Linked DNA regions of Homo sapiens: region 2 is linked to region 1. A link means that fine-mapping ties the variant in region 1 to the expression of a gene that starts in the linked region. Tissue or cell type: whole blood. Region 1 holds a variant in brackets; the other region holds the start of a gene. All regions are shown on one strand. Distances are between the middles of the regions. Region 1 overlaps SH3BP5 (SH3 domain binding protein 5). Region 2 holds the start of SH3BP5 (SH3 domain binding protein 5).

The links. PIP is the estimated chance that this variant, and not a neighbour inherited with it, causes the effect.
Region 2: SH3BP5 starts here. The variant in region 1 is fine-mapped to the expression of SH3BP5 in whole blood (INTERVAL, PIP above 0.99).

Annotation. Positions count from the first base shown.
Region 1 is chr3:15,298,137-15,310,697 of GRCh38, reverse strand. SH3BP5 (SH3 domain binding protein 5) reads left to right here. Exons shown (of 9, transcript NM_004844.5): 3 at 6,467-6,595. Among named protein-coding and RNA genes, the nearest start is that of SH3BP5, 28 kb to the left of the region's middle. The variant A/C (reference allele first, on the strand shown) is at 6,165.
Region 2 is chr3:15,327,073-15,339,633 of GRCh38, reverse strand. It overlaps SH3BP5 (SH3 domain binding protein 5), which reads left to right and starts at 7,048. Exons shown (of 9, transcript NM_004844.5): 1 at 7,048-7,363; 2 at 9,068-9,130. The coding sequence starts at 7,226. RefSeq lists silencers at 975-1,024, 6,940-7,339, 7,420-7,479 and an enhancer at 11,374-11,563.

The DNA.
Region 1 (12,561 bases):
AAGTGCTGATCTAAAAACTCCCTTGGTAAACAGCCCTGGGATGGTAAACGGATTCTTTTTCTTGACTGGTGGAAGATCTGCTTGCTCTCTCAGATAAGTTTGTACTTTTGAGCCACTCCCCTCCATGGCTCATTTTCTGCAGGGAAAGCAGTCAGCTTACTCTCCTCCCTGGACATTCCTGAAGCCACCCCCACTCTGATCTTGGAAAACACATTTGCTTGTAATTGCAGGAGACAAAGGATCACAGTCAAGTCTTTTCTTTAAGAAACAAGACAGAAAGTCTAAGTTCAATTGTGGCAAGGTGGTTTTAAGATGTATTGAAAGAAATGCTTTATAAAAGCTAGGTTGAACTAAATTCCACAGACTCTGCTCCTTATACACATGGCTTTATTGTTAGGCTCTCCCCTCATGATGCCAGGATGGCTGCTATCTGCTGCAGGCTTTCATTCCATCCTCTTAAACATCTCAAGTGGAAGAAATTTCCTCTAACAGTTGCAGAAAGGTCCCGAAATGAAGTCTCATTGGTTATGATGGGTCATGTCTATCGCCCCTGCTCATCGAACAATCACTGTGGCTAGGAGTATGACTGTGGCCAGGCCCTGTCACATCACTAGGGACTGAGAGGTGGGGGTGAGGACCAAGGAATATTACGGCTGTAACACTGGGGAGACAGGAAAGATTTTGGTTTGTGGCCTCTCATACCTCAATACTTCTGGGAACTGTTACCCAAGTAGCTGTGATCCTCAGTGGAATGGAAACAACTGGGTGGGCTTTTTCTTATGGGGGGGGGGTGGAGCGGGGAAGACTGGCTTTGTGTTCAGTTTCAATGCATCTTTGATGAATAGGCTTGTTGGTGGTTGGAAGTCAGCCAGTCATGCATCATTCCTGGCAGCACAGCCTCATTTATAGAAGGAAACGCTGATGTCAAATCAAGTCTTCTGGGTTTAATACCCTTTGATGGTCACACACTTAGTACAGATAGTCACAAAAAGGGCATCAAGTCAGACTGGCAGGCCCTGAACCTGCCCATCAGAATCACCTGAGGAGTCTTTTAACATACTCTGCACCCAGGTAACAATTTTGTAAAACCTAAATTTGATCAGGTCATGCCCCTGCTTAGAAAAATCTATGATATTTTACAGTTGAAAACAAAAAAGCAGGCATGGTGTTGTACACCTGTAGTCCCAGCTACTTGGAAAGGGCAGGAGGATCCCTTGAGCCCAGGAGTTTGAGGCCACAGTGTGATATGATCATGCCTGTGAATAGCCACCATACTCCAGCCTGGGCATCATAGCAAGACTCTGTCTCTTAAGAAGACAAAAACCCCATCGATTCTCGGCCTTTTGGCTAAGATCAAGTGAAAACAAAAACCCAAAAAACCCCCAAAAACAAAAACACAAAATCAAACAAAAAGCCCTATACTATCCCATTCTCCCACCCTACCCCTGTTTTTTTCTCCCCTAGCCAGTTAACTATATTAGTTTAATGTATTTTAGCTGATGGAGGTATTTATTTCTATGACCAAGTAGTATGTATTGTGTGACTACTTCTTGATTTTTTTCATTTGAGTGACTATCTGTGGACATCCTGCTATGGAAGATGAGGTTTTGTCTCTTTTCACCCTCTGTCCTGTACTTTTCCCATCTGCTGTCTTCTCAGCAGAATCCATTGTGGTCAGTATTTGATTACTTTATTGCAGCTAGGTAAGTGCTATTCACAGTTGAGCCATCTAGTAAACTATGATTATGTTTCCTTTTTGTGGTAGAATGCATTCTTTAATTATTTCTGACAAAGGGTGCATTGGAAATAAATTACTTGAGACTTAAGTAACCCTATGGGAAGAAAACCCATCACATAGAACTAGGTTAAAAGGTTTGATTTTGAGATGTGATTTATGGCCAAAGGAAGAGAAATGGCAAGTAGAGAATAGCAGAGGGAGACAGAATTTCAGTGATGAACTAGCACCAGAAAATCTTCTGCAAAGAAAGAAACAAGAAGTAATCTCCCCTTCTCCCCACTGTGCCATGCCCTCCCATTGTTCATGGGATTGAGTTCAGATGCCTTTATAATGGCCAGGAGGCGTCCTTGCTCCAGCCCCTACCAGGCCAGCCCGTCCGTCCGTGCTGGAGGGTCGAATGTCCCCCTTCTCTGTCTGGTGGAATCCTCTTTCTTCATGTCTGACTTGGGTTGGGTGGCCTTCTCAGCCGTGTGTCTGTTGCTCAACGTGTGTAAGTAGTCTTAGCACTGCTTGAGTTTAATTGTTCACTCTGCCATTTCCCAGCTCTGTGACCATGGGCAAGTTACCTTTCTTTTCCTTGCCTCTATTTCCTCCTTTATAAAATGTGAATAACAACAATAGCACCTACCTGTTAGGATTGTTAGCGATTGCACAAATTGGTGGGGTTAAAGCACTGACAGTAGTGCCTGCCACATAGCAGTCAGTCAGTCTGTGCCCTGTATCCATCCTTCTTTCTCCACAAAGGCAGCGTTGGTGGGTTGTATTCACCAGTGCCCCAGAGAGCTCTCAGCAAATCAGATATCTTTAGCGGCTGGGCAGGGAACCTGAATGAGTGATTCAGACACCAGAGTGATAGGGACTGGAGAGGAGGGTAACCCCTGCCTAAGGGGGCACCTTCTGCTCTGCTTCTAGCTATTTTTTTTCTTTAAATGAAAAGTTTGAGAATTCATTTTTTTTTTAAATGTGAATTTTCCCTGACGTTTACTACACAGCATATCAGCCAAATGTACTAAGCTTATTGGCCCGTAGGCCACTGCTTTGGGGCTCAATTCTCATTTAACAGAGTAGGCCTGGGGGTTGATGTGACCGGCTGTAGGCCACACGCTAACCGATCTGGCCCTCCGTTTTCTCACTGGTGTGAATGTGGACAGCACTGGCACTGGCCACCACCAGGGAGGTGACCGTGAGGATGCGGTCATGCATGCGAGTGCATCTTGCAGAGCGGCTGCCTGCACAGTGGAACAGGTTATTATGTCCACCGTGTCAGCTGCCCTCGCCTCTGGGAAACTCCCTGGGTGGTTTTTAATAGGGTCTCAGGGTCTCTTTTTATACCAGGAGGAAAAAAATTGTATGCATTTATTGAGCACTGACTGTGTGCCCAGAAATTGTTAAATGTTTTACATTTGTATTCTCCTTGATTCCTTCTAAGAGCCCTCCCTATGGGATGGAAAGTAACAATTTTATAGGTAATACAAATGGTTCATAGAGACGGCCCTGATTAGGGCCTTGCAGAAAGAGCTTTAGTCAGCAGTGAATCTGTGTTTCTGATTAAAATCCTGGGCTTTGACAGCATGCTGCTTCCCTCTTATTGGAAGCCAAGTCCTGTAGAAGCTCTGTGGGGCTTCTCTATTCCTTGGGCCCTTCCCCTGGAGAACAAGTCTAGTCTTGTCTTCTGCCTGTAGAAGCTGCAGCGGATGACCCTAAGCCTGGTCTGATAAGGGAGAAGGCAGAGGAAATCAGGATGATGATGATGGCACAGAACCAGGGGAAAGGGGGCAAAGCCTGTGTTGGACATGGGATCCAGGCTCGGGAGCTGAGGTGCTCCCATGGGAGGTAAAGCTTTTATCCTCATATTTTGGAATGCCGGCGGCGTTTTCAAACCCACTAGCAAGCCAACAGCTTGGGATGATGGAATGAATTAGAACTGATCAGAGCCTCCTTTGCCCCCATGAAACCCCTGCAATTGCATGTTTAGAAATAAAATGTCGGCTGGGTGCCGTGGCTCACACCTGTAATCCCAGCGCTTTGGGAGGCCTAGGCGGGTAGATTACTTGAGGCCAGGAGTTTGAGACCAGGCTGGACAACATGCGAAACCCCATCTCTACTGAAAATACGAAAAAAAAATTAGCTTGGCGTGGTGGTGCACACCTGTAGTTCCTGCTACTTGGGAGGCTGAGGGACGAGAATTGCTTGAACCCGGGAGGCAGAGGTTACAGTGAGCTGAGGTCATGCCACTGCACTCCAGCCTGGGTGACAGAGTGAGACTCTGTCTCAAAATAACATAAAATTTTTCTGATAGTTACTTGTGAGGCAGGCCCCTCTAGCCAATGAAACACATGTTTTACCAGCAGGTGGGTGTTGAGTCTCCAGGCCCATAGCTCATGATCATGTGTTGTTCTTTTGGAGTATCCACTTCCCCTTTCTTTTCTTTTCTTTTCTTTTGTTTTTGTTTTGAGACAGGGCAGGGTCTGTCGTCCAGGCTGGAGTGCAGTGGTGTGATCTTGGCTCACTGCGGCCTCAACCTTCTGGGCTTAAGCGATCTTTCCGCCCTGGCCATAGGCACACGGCACCATGCCCAGCTAGTTTTTTGTTTGTTTGTTTGAGACGGAGTCTCGCTCTGTCTCCCAGGCTGGAGTGCAGTGGCGCGATCTTAGCTCACTGCAAGCTCCGCCTCCCGGGTTCACGCCATTCTCCTGCCTCAGCCTCCCAAGTAGCTGGGACTACAGGTGCCCACCACCATACCTGGCTAATTTTTTTTTGTATTTTTAGTAGAGATGGGGTTTCACCTTGTTAGCCAGGATGGTCTCGATCTCCTGACCTCATGATCCACCCGTCTCGGCCTCCCAAAGTGCTGGGATTACAGGCATGAGCCATGGTGCCCGGCTGCCATTTCTCTTTTTTTTTTAAACTCATGCATGTGTCCTTCCTTCCCCTAGGTGTGGCTTTGTCAGGCAGATGCCTGAGGGAGAGGTAGAGGGGATGTGGGGTTTGAATCACTGACCTGATCCCTTCCAATAGGTCCTCCTAGACCTGGGACTAACTTATTTAATTTTTTTTTTCTCTCCTTATACCTCTTGGATCTGGTTTCTTGACTTTTACAACATGATTAAGCCTTGCACAGTCCTTCTTTGCCTTCCTAACTCCTATCAAGGTCCAAGTTGCTAGTTGCTGTCGCCAGGATGGATGGCCACCCTTATCTCTTGCCATTCTCCACATTCCAGACCTCCGGCCTCCTTCAGTTTCTTGCAGACACCATGCTGTTCCCATTCCCCTCTTATCTGGACACAGGCTCTGCTGCCTGCTTGGGACTCAGTATTTTCCTCCCCTCCCCCAATTTCCTATTCATGCTTTGGACTTCTGTTTAGATAGTACTCCTCTGGAAGTTTCCTGTGACTCTCCCTCTAATACATGGTCTGGCGCCATTCTTCCCTGCTGAGTTCCATGGCGACTGGACCATTCCCACCCTGGCACTGACTTTTCTGGAACGGGCTGTAATACCTACCTCACCCACCAGGCTGTAAGTGCCCTGGAGACAGGGCCACGCCCAAGGCCCAGCACCAGGTCTGGCATGTGGTAAATAAATAAATAAATTTGCACTCAGTGTTTAACATTGACAGCATCATTTGGACTGAAGCTGTCAGAGATGGCTGGACATTCTTCCCCAGATAGAGGTTTGGTCAGTGTTGAATCTATGTCTCTGATTAAAGTCCTGAGCTTTGACAACATGCTGTCCAGAGGTCCTGGACAAAGCTTTTTAATCTATACCGTGCTATGCAATATAGTAGTTGCTAGCCATGTTAATTAAAAAATTTTAAATATAATGAATTAATTTTTTTTTTTTTTGAGACAGTGTCTCACTCTGTCACCCAGGCTGCAGTGCAGTGGCACGATCTCGGCTCACTGCAACCTCTGCCTCCTGATTCAAATGATTGTCCTGCCTCAGCCTCCTGAGTAGCTGGGATTACAGGTGTCCCCCACTATGCCCGGCTAATTTTTGTATTTTTAGTAGAGACGGGCTTAATTTCCAAAGGGTCCATCCTACCGATATCTCCCCCACAGTGCACAGCATGTTGTGCACATACACAGTAGGTGCTCAGAAACTTTGCGTTGTTGTTGCTTACTAAGCTTTTTTTTTTTTTTTTTTTGAGACAGAGTCGTGCTCTGTCACCCAGGCTGGAGTGCAGTGGCATGATCTTGGCTCACCACAAGCTCTGTCTCCTGGGTTCAAGAGATTCTTGTGCCCCAGCCTCCTGAGTGGCTGGGACAGCAGGTACCTGCTACCACGCCTGGCTAATTTTTGTATTTTTAGTAGAGATGGGGTTTTGCCATGTTGGCCAGGCTGGTCTCCAACTCCTGACCTCAAGTGATGGGCCTGCCTCGGCCTCCCAAAGTGCTGGGATTACAGGCGTGAGCTACCACACCCGAG[A/C]TGATTAAAATTAAATAAACTAAAAACTCCTTTCCTCAGTCACACCGGCCAGTTTTAAGTGCTCAGTAGCCACACGTGGCTGGTGGCCGCCACACTGCACTGTGCAGAGCACAGGACGTTTCCGCCGTGGCAGGAAGCTGTTTTGGGCGGTGCTGCTCTAGACACTGTCTTGTAAAGGTGCTACTTTAGGGGTCTGTACGTTGGGTAAAGTCCTTTGTTGATGTTTCTGTCTAGGTCCAGTAGGTGTTTGCAGATCCCTTCTTAAGCCTCAACTGTGTTTCCTCGGTTTCCCCTGGCTGCAGGATGCTCGTCAGAAGTTCCGCTCTGTTCTGGTTGAAGCAACGGTGAAACTGGATGAACTGGTGAAGAAAATTGGCAAAGCTGTGGAAGACTCCAAGCCCTACTGGGAGGCACGGAGGGTGGCGAGGCAGGTAAGATAGCCCCATAGATGTCTCCCCTACCTCGAGCCTCACTACCCCTCAGTTTTAAGGGTGCCTTTGACTGTATCACCTGCTGAAGGTTAGAAGCTCGAGTCCAATATGTCTTAAATGCAGTGACCCACCGCCCCGCAATCTGCTTCATTCCAGTGCTCGACACTATTAATAGGGTGTGAGTGCTGGCATTTGGATGACCCTGCAAGTGGGTGCTCTCCCTGAGTTGGTGCTGAGTGCACTTAAGGGGACGTGTCCAGAGGGTGTTCCTCCTCCGCTCCTAATGACAACCTGTCAGACAGCAGTAGGAAGATTCGCTTACTGCCTCGCGTTCGCCTCACTCTTGGGAGTGTTTAGCCTTCTGCTTCTCTTGAAACATCGGTTCTTCTTCTTTTTCTTTTTTTTTTTTTCCTTTTTAAGATTTGGCAGGTGAGTTGTTATACACTCCTTAGCGGATTCTGACTTCCGTGGCCATCGTCCTGCTGAAACTTTGGTTCTTTGTCCTGAGAGCCCAAATAAGAAGCAGTGAAACGGAGACCAGAAGGGGAGTGGCGGAGGGGACTGTGATCAGGCGATTGCTGGGGGCTGCGTGGAAATGGGTTCTGGTTTAGGAGTTGGTCTTCCTTTGGCTGCTGTGTGACGCGATGTGCCACTTGTGTCACCTGCAGCCTCTGATAGCCAGGCCCTGTGAATGGGGAAGGTAAAGAGCCCTCAACAGTTACTAGTACCTGCTGTGTGGCAGGCTCTGGGCTGGGGGCTTTATTCACCTTCCTCAGCCTGCTTCGGCTTCCCGATTAGAGAGCTAATGTGAATCACCAACCCTGTGATGCCTCTTGAGATGAGAGTTCAGATTTCCCAAGAAGATCTAAGCAGTTGGTCCAAATTGTAGTTCACTAGCAAATGACCCAGTGCTGTCCCTGTGGTGTGTTTATGACATGATGGAAGATGCTGCCTTCAAAAGTGTCCACTTGTAAGAAGATGTTTAGTGAGGCTGGGCATGGTGGCTCACACCTGTAATCCCAGCACTCTGGGAGGCCGATCACTTGGTGGGCAGATCACTTGAGGTCAGGAGTTCGAGACCAGCCTGGCCAACATGTTGAAACCCCTCTCTTCTAAACATACAAAAATTAGCCGGGTATGGTGGTGGGCGCCTGTAATCCCAGTCACTAGGGAGGCAGAGGCATGAGAATCGCTTGAACCTGGGAGGTGGAGGTTGCAGTGAGCCGAGATCGTGCCACTGCACTCCAGCCTGGGCGACAGAGCACAAATGTGTCTCAGAAAAAAAAAAAAGAAAGAAAAAATGAGAGAGCAACAACAATGCAAAGTTTCTGAGCACCTACTGTGTATGTGCACAGTGTGTTGTGCACTGTGGGGGAGATATCAGTAGGATGGACCCTTTGGAAATTAAGTCCCAGAAATCTAGGAATATATTAAGATAGACCCATAGAGAATGAGGGCCAGGACTTAACCATTCCTCTTCTTTTTCCTATTTCCATGCACCTCTCATTTCTCTTCAAGGGAGCCCCTTGCTGCTTTGGGAGTTCTACCAAGATCGTACCTGTGTGTTTGGGTTTTATGCTCTGAACCCTGAGCTGAAGTTCCTGGTTGGACCTTGCCAGATATGTTGCCTTTATTCCTAGACAGAGTGGCTGCCTGAAACCCTTCTTTCTTCCCTGGCCTGGTGCATTGGGCTGTATACTTCAAAGTTCTGATTGCTCGTTGGTCTGCACAAGCCCTGAGCAGCAGCCACTCCCTTTTTCCATCTCCAGCTGGGCCCTGCCCAGGCCTCTAGAATTCCCGGGAGAAGAAACCCTTCTCCAAAAAGCACTTTCCAATTCCCACAGATTCCAGCACCCTGAGGCATTCCCCCTCCAAAGTGTCCACGTTGGATTAATCTTTGAGATGCCCCCCAAGTTGAGGATGTGTCCTACCCACTGTAGGCCAAGGTTGTATCATTCTTGACCTGAAACGGAAGTATGGAGGGTTCAGGTTAGGTTTGAGGAGAAGCTTCTGAGGATTTAATTTAAACATTGGATAAATATCGAGGAATTCAGAAAACCTCCTTTCCTGAAAGTCTTTAACACTGGGATTTATGGTTCTGTGATGCCATTTAGCCCACGCGTATCTATTAAAAGCAGCCCACGTGCCCATGCTGCAGAGTGATTGAAGGATGGTCTGTTGAAGCATCCCACTGGAGTCGCGGCAGTGGCTTCTCTACCTGAAGTTTTCCTTGTCTGGTCCCTGAGCTCAGGTTTGGGGGCAGAGATGGCTCTAGGGGGCTTTGTGTTGGGGTTTCTCAAGGCTGGTCCTCTGATTCAGGTCACTCCCTTGGCTGTGCTGATGTGAAACGTGCTCCTGCCTCAGGTCTTTGGACTTGCCTTTCCCTCTGTTTGGTGGTGTCCCTCTGTTTGGCGATGTCCTGGTATTTTCATAGCCCGATTTCCTCATCTTCAGGTTTCTGCTCAAATGTCTATCCCTTTATCCATGAGGCCTTCTCAGGCTAACATTTAAAATGGTTAACTCCCAGCCCACCATCCCTGCCAGCCCCAGCCCCCATGCCTTGCTTTCCTTTTTCCCTGTGGGGCTTCTCCCCATATGACCTGTTATAATTTACTTGTTTACAGTAAGTGAAGCTCAGCAAGGGCAGAGAGTTTCATTCGTTTGGCTCCTTGCTGGATCTGCAATGCCAGCATACAGAAGGTGCTCAAATATTGTATAAATCAATAAATGAACAAACTAGTGAATGATGTTGGGGAGCCACCAACAGACCAGAGGTTCCTCCCCTGCCCTCCCTTGAAGTCATGAGCATTTCCTCTCCGTTGCTCCTTTACTCACAGCCTCTTTCCCACCTGGTAGCTAGGTAAGCAGATGGAGAGTGGCATGACTGGCAAATCCAGCCTCGTCTGGGTTGAGTTCATTCAAATCCCGTTTAGCAGTTGGGTCCCCAGCTGGCTGTGACACATCCTGGAGCAGATTTCACACCACTCCCTGCTCTTCTGCACCCCAAATCTTCTTTGTTGGGAAAAGAGGTAGGAGGGAGCTGGCTGGGAGGCTCCTAGTCTGTTGGGAAGCAGTGGATGGTGGCTCCTCTCCATCTCTTCATCCCTTCTCTTGGCTAGTGAGGACAATAGGGCAATTACTGAGTCCTGTGGGCAAGGCACTGAGTCATCGGTCGAATCAGATGATGCCCAGGTCCTGGGGATGAGTGAGTCACTCTTAATGGGCAGCTCCCAAGATGAATGTTGAGAGCATCCTGCCTGGCTTTATGCCTGCAAGCCCTCCCCGTAATCTCCTTCCTTCTTGCAGGTGGGCAGGAAGAAGCAGGGTAGAAAAGGTTAGATTCCTAATCTAACTCCTACCCCTCAACCCCAAGGGACCTTGTTGGTCAATAGCGAAGGAACTGGAAGGATGTTCAAAGGCTGAGGCAGGGCACAGATGTCACATTTCATCTCTGTGGAGGGTGGGCTGCTCAGGCCAGATGGATGAGCTTGTTTGTGTGTGAATGTTCCTCTCACCTTCCTGATGGTGAGGGGGGCGATGTCCACTTCCAGATGCTGCCAAGTAGGACTTCCTGTTTTCTTCCTCTTGTCCCCCCGCCCCCGCTTCCTTTTTATATTTACAAAGCTCTCTGGTTATGTACAGCAGGGAAATGGTGCCTGAGAGACTCCTTCAGATAGCAGTTCCTTCTAGTTTGAGTCAGGAGGCACTGCGTCCCCAGAGTCCCTGCATCCTCATTCATGAAATGCTGGCAGTCAAGGGAACAGCCCTGGCTATCTCATGAGGTTGGCCTTAGGATTTAAGTGAGATAATGTGTTTGACAATGGAATCCCAGCATGAGCTTGGGTTTCGGCTTCATTAAAAAATTAGAATTTATTGTAGAAAATTTAGAAAATAGACAGAAGAAAATAATCCTAGTACCTTCTCTTACTATTTGATGTATATCCCATATTTTTTTCAAAAAAAAGAAATAATGATAATTACATGATAGTCATGTATCAATGCATTTTCCACTTTTGATGGTTACATTATTATTATGTGAGAGAAGGTCCTTATTTGTAGGAAATAACAACTACAAAAAGTATTTGGGGGGGTGATGGAGCATCAGGTACTCACTCAAATGGTTGAGAGCAAAAAGTTATTTGTACTGTACTTTTTCTTAACTTTGTGAATATTTTGAAATAAAAGTACGTATGCCATTTGGAGAAAAAGAAGATAGCATAGTGGTGGTTTTTTATGTCTGGAATATCCATGTCTGTCTATTCCAGTGTCTGGAATATCCATGTCTATCTATCCACTGGAATATCCAGTGTCTCAGTTGAGGGTACTTAAAAGGGAAAAACCTCCCACACTTGATTTTCTTTGAAGAGTTTACAAAGATTTGTAATTTCAGCCTGGGCAACATGGTGAGATCTTGTCTCTATATGAAATAAAAAAAATTTAAAATTAGCTGGATGTAGTGATATGTGCCTGTGGTCCTAGCCCTTAGGAGGCTGAAGCAGGAGGATTGCTTGAGCACAGAAGTTCAAGGCTGCAGTGAGCCATGATGTCTCTCTTGTATTCCAGCCTGGGTGACAGAGCAAGACCCTGACTCAAAAAAAAAAAAAAAAAAAAAAAAAAAATCTAATTGTTGAGCTGGTGGAAATTGTATTGGTTCATTAAAAATTTGCATCGATTTTATTTTTCCTGATATGAGCTCATTTTTCAGCCAATGAGTCAGATCCAGTTCTGTGATCTTGAAAACCAAGTCCAATTTCTGCCAAGCAGAGGTAGAACATGATGTGTGTTTTCTGTGCCAGGTTGGGGGCAGGGCACTGGCTTTGATTTGAGAGTTTTTGTCCTTGAGCCCAAGCTTGTTTTTAAGGCTGCTTTGACATATCTGCCAGTCCATCTGGCCTTCAGCATATGGTAGGGGAGCAGTCTGATGAGGGCGGAGCCCATGTGAATCAATGACGCTGAAAAGCAGGGTGTATCTTGCTTACCTGGCTCCCTGGGTGCTGACTGGTCTAACAGTGGCTTTGGACCTGTCATTTTATCACTATCAGTCCCAACCCTTCTTTTTCTCCTCTTTAAGAAAATTGTGGTAAGGTACATACAACACAAAATGTACCATTTTTACCATTCTTTTTTTTCTTTTTTGCCTCTCCCCCATTTTAACCATTCTTTAAGGATGGCATTAAGGCATTCACATTGTGAATGCACATTCACTTGCTGTGCAACTCTTACCACCATCCATCTCTAGAACCCTTGCATCTTCCCAGACTGAAACTGTACCCATTCAACACTAACTCCCCAATCCTCCCCTCTCCCAAGCTCAGGCAACCATCACTTCTGTTTTCTATTTCTATGAATTTGACTACCCTAGGTACCTCATATAAGTACTGAGGAATCATACAATATTTGTCATTTCGTTACTGGCTTATTTCACTTAGCATAATGTCCTCAACATTCATCCATGTTATAGCATGTGTCAGAATTTCCTTTCACTGAATGTATATACCACGTTTTATTTATCCATTCATCCATGGACATTGGGCAACCCTTGTTATTTTTGAATGGTTGGAATGCGTCAGAAGAGAGCAGAGCACTTTGCAAACTTGATGGGCAGCACAAATGCAAAATAGTGCGGATTATTTAGTGCTGAAAGTTGCCTGTTTTGTGTCTGTGGGGCTATATAAGGCCATGTCTTACATATAACCTCCTTTAGGAAAGGAGATGAGTGGGAAAACATTTGAAACTTGTAGAGTGACTTGTAGGCTCACCTCTTAAAAGCTGTGGGACCTTTGGCAGGTTACCTAATCTCTGTGCCTCATTTTTTTTCATCCATAAAATGGAGTTGGCTAATTGAGGGATCTCAGGCCTGTAATCCCAGCACTTTGGGAGGCCAAGGCGGGAGGACTGCTTGAAGCCAAGAGTTCGAGGCCAGCCTAGGCAATGTAGTGAGACCCAGTCTCTACAAAAAGTAGCCA
Region 2 (12,561 bases), 29 kb before region 1:
GGTTCAAGCAATTCTCCTGTCTCAGCCTCCCTGGTAGCTGGGACTACAGTCGCATGCCACAGTGCCAGGCTAATTTTTGTATTTTTAGTAGAGATGGTTTTACCATATTGGTCAGGCTGGTCTCAAACTCCTGACCTCAGGTGATCCACCTGCCTCAGCCTCCCAAAGTGCTGGGATTACAGGTGTGAGCCACCGCACCTGGGCTCTTCTTTTTAGTAGAACACTTTTTCCATCTCCAGGATTCCAGCACCATCCTAAATATCTGTAGGTCCTGTAAGACTACAGATATACACTGAAAATCTCTTTCCTGGATTCTCTAGGTGCTGTGGCCTGTAATTCATCTGGGTCAAGAGACAAGTTTAATTCAATTTAGACACAAATAAAGGTTCTCCTTAGAGGGGAGTGGCCACATTGGAAGACAATTTGGCAACACACTGATGTCACTGAATCGCTAAATTAAACAGATGCCTCTTTAATGTGGAGGCTCTGATCCCTTTCAAAGAACTGGCTTCTATAGACTCTTGAATTCTTAGAACCAGTCATTTGGGGTTAAAAAATATTGTTGAAGGGTTTATGGTCTACCTTAAAATTCTCTTCCACCTTGCTATGTGCCATGATCCTTAGGGGTCGCTGGGAAGAGAAGAGAGATTTGGCAGGAAGACCTACGAGCCAGCTTTCCTGCAACACCTTACCATGAGGGCTCTGGGGAGAGGTCAGACATTTACCTGTGTGTGGCCTGCCAGGTGTAAGTGGTCTGCCAATAGGGTTCTGAGGTTAATTTGAGACTACATGCCATCCTAAAGGGGCCAGCCAGCCACTCCTCACATCTTCTCCACACTCTTGCCAATCAGAGATGTCTGCATTTTCATATTAGGTCACTGTTTTCATGTTTAGGTTTTTTTTTTTTCGGGGGACCTTGCTAGTGCAAGGGATGGGGGTGGGGTGTGGTGGCTGCGCACCCATGCATGAGTCCCTCCCCACCCCACACTGCTGCAAGCCTCCTTCATGTTAGTTTTAACTGTTGGCTCAAATTTATAAAGGCTATGTCAGCCAGGCAGCACATACCCCAGGCCTGATCCCACCAGTCGCTTCCAGTTTGCAGCCTCTGACCTAAAGTGCCACGTAAATATCACTGGTGGAGAAAGAGGGGATGCTAGTTATCAGTTTCTTCCGATATTGACACCAGAGTGTGATGTGAATGCAGATTCATTCTTAGTCCAGACAGCAGTTTCTGTTCTAGGAGTTAACAGGTAGTTACGAAGCATTTAATTTAATTTAATGTATTTATTTAGAAACAGGGTCCCTATCTGTTGTCCAGGCTGGAATGCAGTAGTGTAGTCTTGGTTCACTTCAGCCTCAACCTCCTGGGTGCAAGCAATCCTCCCATCTCAGCCTCTGGAGTAGTTAGGACTACAGGTGCACACCACCACACCTAGCTAGTTTTTGTATTTTTTGGTAGACATGGGGTCTTGCTATGTTGCCCAGGCTGGTGTTGAACTCCTGGCTTCAAGCAGTCCTCCCACATTGGCCTCCCAAAGTGCTGGGATTACAGATGTGGGCCAGCACGCCTAGCTCACAAAGCATTAAAAAAAAAAATTGGCATTGCAAGGAATCTTAATTTAAATGGCATTGAAATTTGACAGAAAGGGTCTTAACTTCACAATGAGGGATTGACTTGGCTGCTGCTTTGGGGCACTTTTTTTTTTTTTTTTTTTTTTTGAGTCAGGGTCTCACTCTGTCACCCAGGCTATAGTGCCATGGCACTTCCTTAGTTCACTGCAGCCTCGAGCTCCTGGGCTCAGGGGATCCTCCTGCCTCACCCTCCTGGGTAGTTAGGACTATAGGTACACACCACCACACTCCGCTAATTAAAAATTTTTTTTTGGTAGAGATGTGGGGAGGCTCTTACTATGTTGCCCAGGCTGGTCTTGAACTCCTGGCCTCAAGCGATCCTCCTCCCTTGGCCTCTCAAAGTGCTGGGATTACAGGTGTGAGACCTGGCCTGGGGCCCAGGTTTCATGAGGGCCTGTCTCCCCAAGTAAAGGACTAGGAATTTGTCATCTACATGTTTGGGACCCTCAAACTGGCCCCAGAAATAGTGTATGCATATAGTAGGGGCTGAAAAGTGTACTGAATTAATGTTGCTTTCTGCAGATCTAGATCTAAAAACAAAAAACAGAACAAAAATACAAATGAATTAATGTTGTTGATCACTTTCACTTGCAAACTTCAGTTTAAAAACATTAAATAAAAACTCTTGGCCGGGCACGGTGGCTCTCGCCTGTAATCCCAGCACTTTGGGAGGCTGAGGTGGGTGGATCAGGAGTTCAAGACCAGCCTGGCCAACATGGTGAAACTTCATCTCTACTAAAAATATAAATATTAGCTGGGTGTGGTGGCAGGCGCCTATAATCCCAGCTACACAGGAGGCTGAGGCAGGAGAATAGCTTGAACCCAGGAGGCGGAGGTTGCAGTGAGCTAACACCACCGCACTCCAGCCTGGGTGACATAGCGCGACTCTGTCCCAAAAAAAAAAAAAAAAAAAAAAACTAAACTAAAAAAAACCCCAACTCTTTGGCTGAGTGTGGTGGCTCACGCCTATAATTCCAGCACTTTAGCTTAGCTACTAAGTACAGGTAAAAAGTAGTAAGACTGTGGGATTGAACCAGGGTTGGGATTATGCCAAGTGCTTACAGTGGTCGGGGAGAAGCGTGAGGGAGTTGTGGTTGACTGTAGTGTGGTGATTTTAATGATGGACAATGGAATCTAAGCTAGATCAAATGGGAAGTGTGGACATAAGAGGGTGAGGGACTGTAAAAGAGTCTAGGGAGCCATGATGAAGCCCTGAATCAAGGGTTAGAAAGATGGGAATGATTTGGAGACTATACTATAGGAAAATCCACTCGTCCTTGCTGACTGGGTTCACTGGGACTCTCAAACCATAGGTGGGTCCTTAGCGCAACCTGGCGATTATAATATATTCCCATGGTCAACTCAGTCACCAACTGTCCCTGCAAGCTCTTTCACAAAGCCTCTCTCCTCCAACCTCCATTGCCCTCTGCCCCACATCCCCTCATTCTCAGCTGATGATGTGGCTCATTACTTTGCTGAAAAAACAGAAGCAATCAGAAGAGGCTGATCATCAGGCTAATGGATCTCCTTTGTCTCCTCTGACCCTAGCTCCTCAATGTCCACCGAGTCAATTTCTCATACACTAGCCAGAGTTATTACAGGAGCACTCACTCAGAACAAAATCCAAATTCCTTACCATGACCTAAAGCATCTCCGTGGCCTACCCACATGCTTGCCTCTGATTTCATCTCCCTCCCTCTCTCCCTGGCTGTCTCTGTCCTACCCACATGGATCTCCTTGCTTTTTTGCCAACACCCAAGGCATATTCCCACCTCAGGACCTTTGCACATGCTGCTGCAGTCTCTGGAGTGCTTTTCCCCCAAAAGTATATGTGGTACGCTTTCTCATTTCTTTCTTTCTTTTTTTTGAGACGGAGTTTCACTCTTATCGCCCACGCTGGAGTGCAATGGTGCCATCTCGGCTCACTACAACCTCTGCCTCCTGGGTCCAGGTGATTCTCCTGCCTCAGCCTCCAGAGTAGCTGGGATTACAGGCATAAGCCACCATACCTGACCAGTATGCATTATTTTAAATTTATCTTTAAATTCCACAAAACAATCATAAACATATCTTCCTTGTGAAAAATAAAAACATTACTGAGAAACTAACATTCCTTTGATCCCCTGCCCCCATCCCAGACAATCCTAGGCCACGCCCTGCTCCCTTTTTCCCAGAGGTAGCCACTCTTTACTGGGTATAAATCCTTCCAGGCCTTTTGCTATGCATTTATGTGCACTACATATGTGCCAATAGGGAATATATACAGTTGTCCCTTGATATCCCTGGGGGATTGGTTTCTGGACCCCTGCAATGCTAAAATCTGAGATGCTTATGTCCCCTGTAGAAAATGGCAGTGTTTACATATAACCTACATACAACCTCCTGTATACTTTATTTAATTTATTTTTTCATTAAAAACATTTTTTTTTTGAGATAGGGTCTCCCTCTGTCACCCAGGCTGGAGTACAGTGGCATGATCGGGGTCACTGCAGCTTTGACTTCCTGGGCTCAAGTGATCTACCTCAGCCTCCAGAGTAGCTGGAACTACAGGCATGTGCTACCATGCCTTGCTAATTTAAAACAATTTTTATTAGAGATGAGGTGTTTCTTTTTTCTTTTTTTTTGAGAGAAAGTCCTACTCTGTCGTTCAGGCTGGAATGCAGTGGTATCATCTCGGTTCACTGCAACCTCTGCCTCCTGGGTTCAAGCGATTCTTCTGCCTCAGCCTCTCGAGTAGCTGGGATTACAGGCATGTGCCACCATGCCCAGCTAATTTTTGTATTTTTACCATGTTGTCCTGGCTGGTCTCAAACTCCTGACCTCAGGTGATCCACCTGCCTCGGCCTCCCAAAGTGCTAGGATTACAGATGTGAGCCACCATGCCTGGCCTAGAGACCAGGTCTTGCTTTGTTGTCCAGGCTGGTCTCAAACGCCTGGCCTCAAGCGATCGTCTCTCCTGCCTCGGCCTCCCAAAGGACTGAGATTACAGGCATGAGCCACCACATCTGGCCCCTCCTGTATACTTTATTATTTATATATATATATTTATTTTGAGACAGGGTCTTGCTGTCACCTAAGCTGGGGGGCAGTGGTGCAATCTCAGCTCACTGCAACCTCTACCTCCTGGGCTTAAGCAATCTTCCCATCTCAGCCTCCCAAATAGCTGTGACTACAGGCATGAGCCACCACACTTGGCGAATTTTTTGTATTTTTTGTAGAGATGGTGTTTCACCATGTTGTCCAGGCTGGTCTTGAACTCCTGAGCTCAAGCAACCCACCCACCTTGGCTTTCCAAAGTATTGAGATTACAGGCATGAACCACCATGAGCAGCCCCTCCTGTATACTTTAAGTCAGCTCTAGATTTCTTACCTGCAATACCTAATACAATGCAAATATGTACATAGTTGTCATATACTGTATTTTTTTTTTTTCTAGAGAGCAAGGCAGTCTCGCTTTGTTGCCCAGGCTGGTCTGGAACTCCCGGCCTCCAGTGATCCTCCTTGCCTCAGCCTCCCAAAATGCTAGGATTACAGGTGTTAGCCACCACTCCTGGCCATGTATTTTTAAATATGCATTTTTTTAATTGTTGTGTTTTTTTCCCCCAAATATTTTCTATCTGTGGTTAGTTGAATTTACACATGTGGAACCTGAGAGGCTATGGAGGGTTGACTGTATATAGTACTGCCTGTGGTTTATTTATTTTTCTCATTTTATCTTTAGAAAGACTATTAGGATTAACACTATAGCTGGCCCAGATCTCCAAAAAATAAGACAACAAAAGTCTGAACTGATGTTCTTGAGCAGTTGGCCTATGTCTCATAGATGTATTTTGCTCTTGACCTAAGCTTAAGCAGGAATGTAGTTTGGAGTTTGCCATTTAGAATGGAGAGGATAGGGTTCTGCTAGCTGAGAAGCATTTATCATAGTCAGGGCTGACCCCAGAGTTCTGTTTATTTCAAACTCTGTCTCTCAGTTCATTCAGAGCTAGGATGTACCTGCAAAGTTGGAGGCTCAATTCCAAGCCACCAGAGAAGGTTGGTGGCTCCTGTGTTCCAAAGTGACCCCTATGGCTATCTTGTTCCTGGCTTCATCTATCATTGGAAAACCAAAAGCAACTATGTCTTTAGCAAGGAGCTTTGAAGCACCTCTCACAGAATTGCTGACTCATCCTTGATTTAAAGAGCAATGAACAGGTCTGACCTTTTTAGAAACAAACCATGGCACTACCTCCAGGAGACAGGACAAATTTCCTTTGACAGTGGACTACAGTGCCAGCGTGTATGGGGTGGTGCCTTGCCCAAGGAGTAACCCTCTAGCCTAGTTTCTGATAAAACCACCAGGAGCAGGACTATTTATTCATTTGAGAAGGGGTCTGGCTGTATTGTCCAGGCTGGTGTTGAACTCCTGGCCTCAAGTGATCCTTGTGTCCTGGCATCTCAAAGAGCTGGGATTACAGATACGAGCCACCACGTTGTGCCAGACCCAGGTTTTGTAAGGTGGCTTTGATGATAGGTTCTCAGAAAGAAGCTCCTTTCTCAAGCAAATTTGTCCTCCAAACTCAGAGCCGATGGGCTACAGGCCTCCGTGTAGGACATGTGCACGTTCTGCATTTCTCAAGGCAAGGAGACGTGAGCAGCCATGTGCTCATCTGCTTTGCCAAGGTCATCCTTTGCGTTCCCCTGACATCACAGTGGCCCTGACATTTCATAAAAGCACACACACGTGCCTCTTCAGTTTGGCCTTTTCGGATGCTGTGTCTGCCAGGCCAACTCTGTCTCCCTACTTGTTGATGGTGGGCAGAAAGTCTCACTAATTCATAAATTCTTGGCCAGAGTGTGCCCATCAACAGGGGTTACACTTGCCACCTCCTTAAATCCCAGCTCAATGCATTCTCCATGCTCCTGGCTATTCAGGTAGGACCGCCGCACCTCTGTGTTTCGGTATGGGGCTCGCCCAGAGAGGCCGCAGCCTTCGGCAATGCATCAGTGCACGGAACCTCCGCCATTCCCAAGGTTCGCTCAAGAGGATGAGTGTGCTTTGGGTATAGGGTTTCGGCAAGTCTTGGTCCTGAGGGCCAGGGTCACTGAGCGTAGGCTTCAGAAGGCGACTTCAGTGTGAAAACACCCACGCCTCCCTACCACACAAACAACGAGCCTCGGAGGAGGGCTGGAGGAGGGGACTCCCGAAAGCGGGAGGCTTGCGTTACGTAGTTGAGATATATCCGAGCTGCTAAGTTACAAGGGGGTGGGGGCTGTCCTATTTTGCCACCTTGGAGATGTGGAGGGAGCTGGGGTTTTGCGACGGAGACCTGGATAGCTGGGACTGGCGGCGGAACGCGAGGCCGGGGCGGGACGGGGGCGGAGCGGGCGCTGCGCTGACTGCCGCGGCAGAAAGGGGGCGGCCGCGCCCATTTCCTCTGCTCCGCCGCGGCCGGAGGTATCCGCATCGGCGAGCTGCGTCTCCCGGGTGTCGGCCCCGGCGGCTCCCCGACCGTGCCCGGCTGTGGCGAGGCGGCTCCAGCCCAGCCTGTGGCAGCCGCGACCCCCGGGGCGCTCCGGAGCCCACTGCGCGGCGCGCGTGCCGGCTGCCTGCATGGACGCGGCACTGAAGCGGAGCCGCTCGGAGGAGCCAGCCGAAATCCTGCCGCCTGCCCGGGACGAGGAGGAGGAGGAGGAAGAGGGGATGGAGCAGGGGCTGGAGGAGGAAGAAGAGGTGGATCCCCGGATCCAGGTAGGGCGCGCGGGGTCGCCCCGCATCCGGGCTTCGCGAGGGCTGCTACGGAGGTCGGTGTCTACGCGTACAGCCACTTCGCAGCCCCCAGTAACTGTGGTCCGGGGACTGGCGGCCACATAGGGTGGCAGGAGACGGTCTGTATGCTCCGTTTCATCGTCTCCACAATGAGGAGGCTACAGTGCCCGCGTGGATGCGGCCTGACTCTATTGCGGGGAGTCCCCCGCCGACCCGTAGCAGGATCGGGGTCGGTGCAGCGTGCCTGGTGGTTCGGGTGGATGTGCAACAAAGGGAAAAAGGGGGCGGGGGCGCCATGGTATCCTCGGGGGTACCCCTGCCCGGCCGCGGCACCGCGGGCATGGCACGGCGTCCAGGCTCTGCGAGGAGGTGTCGCCCGCGTGGGCGCCGGGCACCGTGGGCGGGTGGGCGTTGCCCTGCAGCGCGGGCTGGCACCGGTGCCCCGGGTGCAGAGTCCTCACTTGCCAAGGTGCCCGGCCTGAGCCGTTTTCCTTCTCTGATTGATTGTTAGCGAACTGAGCGGCTTATTGTCATCACTGGCTCAACGTTCTGCCTGGCTTGAAATTGCTTAAAACCCTGCTTTTCCTTGTTGTGAGGTTGGGCATGAAAAGAAATCGGGGACAACTGATGCGCAAAGCTGACGCGTGGAGGCGGCGAGGGGATTGGGCTGGCTGGCTGTGCCTCCATTTCCAAGAGAGATGATTAAAAAACAATTTCCAAGCCGAGATCTAGGAGTGACAGTTTCACCTCTTCACCCCTAAGCAAAAAGCAGAGCAAATCCCTTTCTAAGGCCCGTTTTTTTTCTACCTTTTCAATAAATCATTTTTTTAAAAAAATTGCTTTTAAGCATGCTCTGTAATTTCTGGATACCTAATTGGTTTTTTAGTGCACAGATCAATTTAAAAGCTCACTTAACTCAGTGGTTGGGGTTTAAATGAATTGTTTTGTCAGCTTAGCAAGATAAAGATCAGGTGGAAAAAAAATCCTTGCATTAGGAATGCTATTAATTAAAGTAATTGGTTTGGAATAAATCGTGTGTTACTGGTATGGGATTATGTTAGCAAGATCCTTTGTTTGCATAGTAATGATGAGTTAAGTTCATGTTGGATACTTTTTTTACAAAATGTCAGTTTGTAAATGTTTATTGAAAGGAATGGGATTAAAGCTAGTTTAAAACGTCCAGCTAAGTAGGTTGAATAATTGGCAGTGTGAAAAGATTTTCACCCTTTACAGAAAAATAATTCTGGTGAGTTAATACCAGAATTCTGCCCTTGATGATTTCACTGGGTTTATATTTTTGGCTTGGCCTTGCTTATTGTCTTTTATTGTTTTCTAAGCAAAGTTCTTGCTCAAGGCAGATGGTACTGTTTTGATTAGGCCATTAAACCATTTGTAACAGGTGGGGTTTACCTGAAGGCATGTACCTGGAATAGTTGACCTCTGACAAATTCCAAATGTCTCTGAAGACATTGTCAAAAGGGACACCCTCAAGAAAATGGTTTCAGAAATGCCGACATTCATTTGCTTTTCTAGTCAAGCCTCAACTGTTTGCCGTAAGAATTAATTCTGATTCTTCCCTTTTCCTGCAAATTGGGCTGGGGTAATTTTTCAGGTTATGGACTGAGTTATATTGGAAACAAAAGACGGATCCCTTAAGTCTTTTTTTCTCCCTCTTTTCTTCACCAGGGAGAACTGGAGAAGTTAAATCAGTCCACGGATGATATCAACAGACGGGAGACTGAACTTGAGGTACAGAGAGCTGAGTTCCTGTTCTTGGTGAAGTGATGTCACTCACACCGGCACAAGGCTGGTTAATTTTGTCTTCATAGCTGGAGTGTTATTGCTGGACCCCCCTCCTTGGGAGTTGAGCAACAGCTCCCTGACAGAATAAAATACACCACTGAGCTCAACCTGTGGGCGGAACGCATGTGGATCCAATTGCACATGTTGTTTTTCATTATGGAAGCTCCATGGGGCCTAAACCAAGTCTGTGCAGAGCGTTACACAACGCTTAAGCCCCAAGTTTTAATGTGACTGAAAGGACAGGGGAAAATTAGCCGAACTCTTTAATGGAGAATAATGAATGAGCTCACAAAATCTCTTACATATTCAGGGCAGTTCCTGCCATTTGTCCTGGAGAGTGTTGTGTTGTTTCCTCTGACTTCGACCATTTCTTGACTTTCCTGTCCTAATAACTCACCCCCCGCCTCCTTCTGCTTCCCTGCTCATTTCTTTATTGTCTGCTAGTGCATAGAATATAATTATAATGGTAACAAAAAGCTGTTTAGACTGGGAAGGCCTTTCCTGCTGGGAAAAATCTTGGGAGACTAAAACTTGATTTGGGTTTCATGTGCATTTTCCAATGGGAGTGTAAACAAGTTAGCATTCATCACAGCCTCCGATTAGTTCCCACCCCTTTCCAGTAGTGGTTGCTTTTACCACCCATCAGCAAATTTGAACAACCACTATATGTATTCAGGAGACTGTGAATTGACTGTCAGAACCCCAAAGGGACTCTCAGCGCAGTTTCCCAATGCAGGGAGCTGTTGGCAAAGTCTGTTTCTGTAGCAGGAGAAATAGCAAACGTCAGTGGAAGGGACAAGAAGCACATGGTCCCTAAGAGTGAGAGTGTGGGAGATAGGAATATAATCTACCAGGATTCACTGGCAGCCTTGATTTCTGCTGCGTGCGTAGGCCCTGGAGTTACCAAATCTGGATGCAGCAATGTGGATGAAAAAGCCTGTTGCTCTGAGTTGCGTGAAGGGTTATCGCTAACCACCTCCATTTCCATCGTAGGTATACAAGAGCATGGGCTGTCCTTCTCCCCAAGTAAAGTAAAATCTGTGTTTGTTTACATTTCTTTCACTTATGAATTGAGTCTGTCTGTGATGTGGGGTAACTGAAACCTCTCAGGATCTCAGATTTCTAATGCATTAAACAACAAAACTCTTACCATTCCTATAGGGCTTTAGCATTTCCAGAGTGTTTTTTACACGTTTTAGCTCATTCCATCCTGTCACACCAGCCTAGAGCTATGCTGTCCCATATGGTAGCCATGTGCAACGTATGGCTATTTGAATTTAATTAAAATTTTTTTTTTTTTGAGACAGAGTCTTACTCTGTCGCCCAGGCTGGGGTGCAGTGGTGTGATGTCTGCTCACTGCAACTTCCACCTCCTGGGCTCAAGTGATTCTCATTCCTCAGCTTCCTGAGTAGCTGGGATTACAGGTGTGCACCACCATGCCTGGCTAATGAGTTTAATTAAAATTAAGTAAGACTAAAAATTCCATTTCTCAGTCACAATAGCCACGTTTCAAGAGCCCAGTTGCCACTATATTAAACAGTCCAGTTGCCACTGTATTAAACTGCTGTCATCATAGAATGTTCTGGCCTGGAGAGCTAGGAGGGTAGGGACTATTTACTTTCCAGATCAGGACTCAGAGGCTCAGCATCTTCTGGTACTATGACGCCTCAGAGGCAGGGCTCCCATCTTATACTCCCAGGCATTTTCCAGATCTCCTCCAGTTCCTGCATTCTATTATCCCAGTGCAGTGGTGCAATCACAGCTCACTGCAACCTCAAACTCCTGGGTTCAGGCAACCCTCCTGCATCATCCTCCCCAGTAGCTGAGACTACAGGTGCATGCCACCATACCTGGCTAATTTTTCATATCTTTAAGCTTTTTTGTAAAGATGGGATCTAGCTCTGTTGACCAGGCTGGTCTTGAACTCCAGGCCTCAAAGTGATCCTCCCACCTTGGCCTCCCAAAGTGCTGGGATCACAGGCATGAGTTGCCATACCCATCCTGGAAATAGTCTTTTTTTTTTTTTTTTAAAAGCATTGATTGATTCTAGTTGCTCGCCTACTATGTGCCGGCCACTGTTCTGGGTAATGAACAAGATGGCCCACATCTCAGCCCCAAGTGTGCTTACTTTCTTGGGGTGAAATTGGTTAATCTGTTAAACTCTTTTTAGCCCTTACTTCTGAATCCCATTTCTGAATACACTTAGGTATTTGTGTGTCACAGGAAGCCACCAGACAGGTGTTTCCTGCCTGGCTCTGGAGAGCATTTGGAACCGTGTGAGAGGCGAACTGGAGGGTGTGAGGGGGGTGGCCAGGGCTGGGCTGGGTTGCTGGCTGGCCTTTTCACGGTATTATAACCAAGACTGACTCATAGAAATATAATACAGGCTACATAAGCAATTAAAAACTCCCTAGTAGACGCATTAAAAACGAAAAAGAAACAGCTGAAATGAATTTAAATATTTTGTTTAACCCGGAATATCCAAGACAGTACAATTTCAACGTGGACTTGCTATTAAAAAATTACTGATATTTTACATATATTTTTGTACTAAGTCTTTAAGATCTTTGGCATATTTTACACTTAGGGCACATTTCAGTTGAGACTAGACACGTTTCAAGTGTTAGCTACATTTGGCACTGGGAGGCATAGGTTTAATAGGTGTTTTCTGTCACAAAGGAGCCAGGTGGGATTTCACCCTTCATGCTGGGCACCAACTGCTTGTCAGACACTGTTGGCCACTGCATTTATGTGGGTGAACAAGACAAAGACCTTGCCCTCCAGGAGTTTACGTTTTTGGTTGGGGTGAGTAGCAGAGCGGGGGTAATAATTACTGGTGGTAATAGCTACAGTAAGAAGTGTGACAGAGACACTGGAGGGGCGCTGCTGGAGGACACCTGAGCAGATGCCTGCAGGGGAGCCTCTGTTTGCAGAAGAACAGGTGGAGTGAGCCACTGGGGTGGTCAAGGGGAGTATGCCCAAGGATGGGGGCAGGAAAATGAGCCATTTTAATATACAGTCAAGTGTTTTGTTTTGTTTTTTTTTTCCTGAGACGGAGTCTCACGCTGTCGCCCAGGCTGGAGTGCAATGGCGTGATCTCGGCTCACTGCAACCTCTGCCTCCCGGGTTCAAGCCAGTCTCCTGCCTCAGCCTCCCGAGTAGCTGGGATTACAGGCGTGCGCCACCATGCCTGGCTAATTTTTGTATTTTTAGTAGAGATGGGGTTTCACCATGTTGGCCAGGCTGGTCTCGAACTGGCTGGTCTTGAACTCCGGATCTCGTGTCGTCGCTACCCCCCTCCCCACCGCCACTGCTGTCTCAGCCTCCCAAAGTGCTGGGATTACAGGTGTGAGCCACCGTGCCCAGTCTTGTTTTT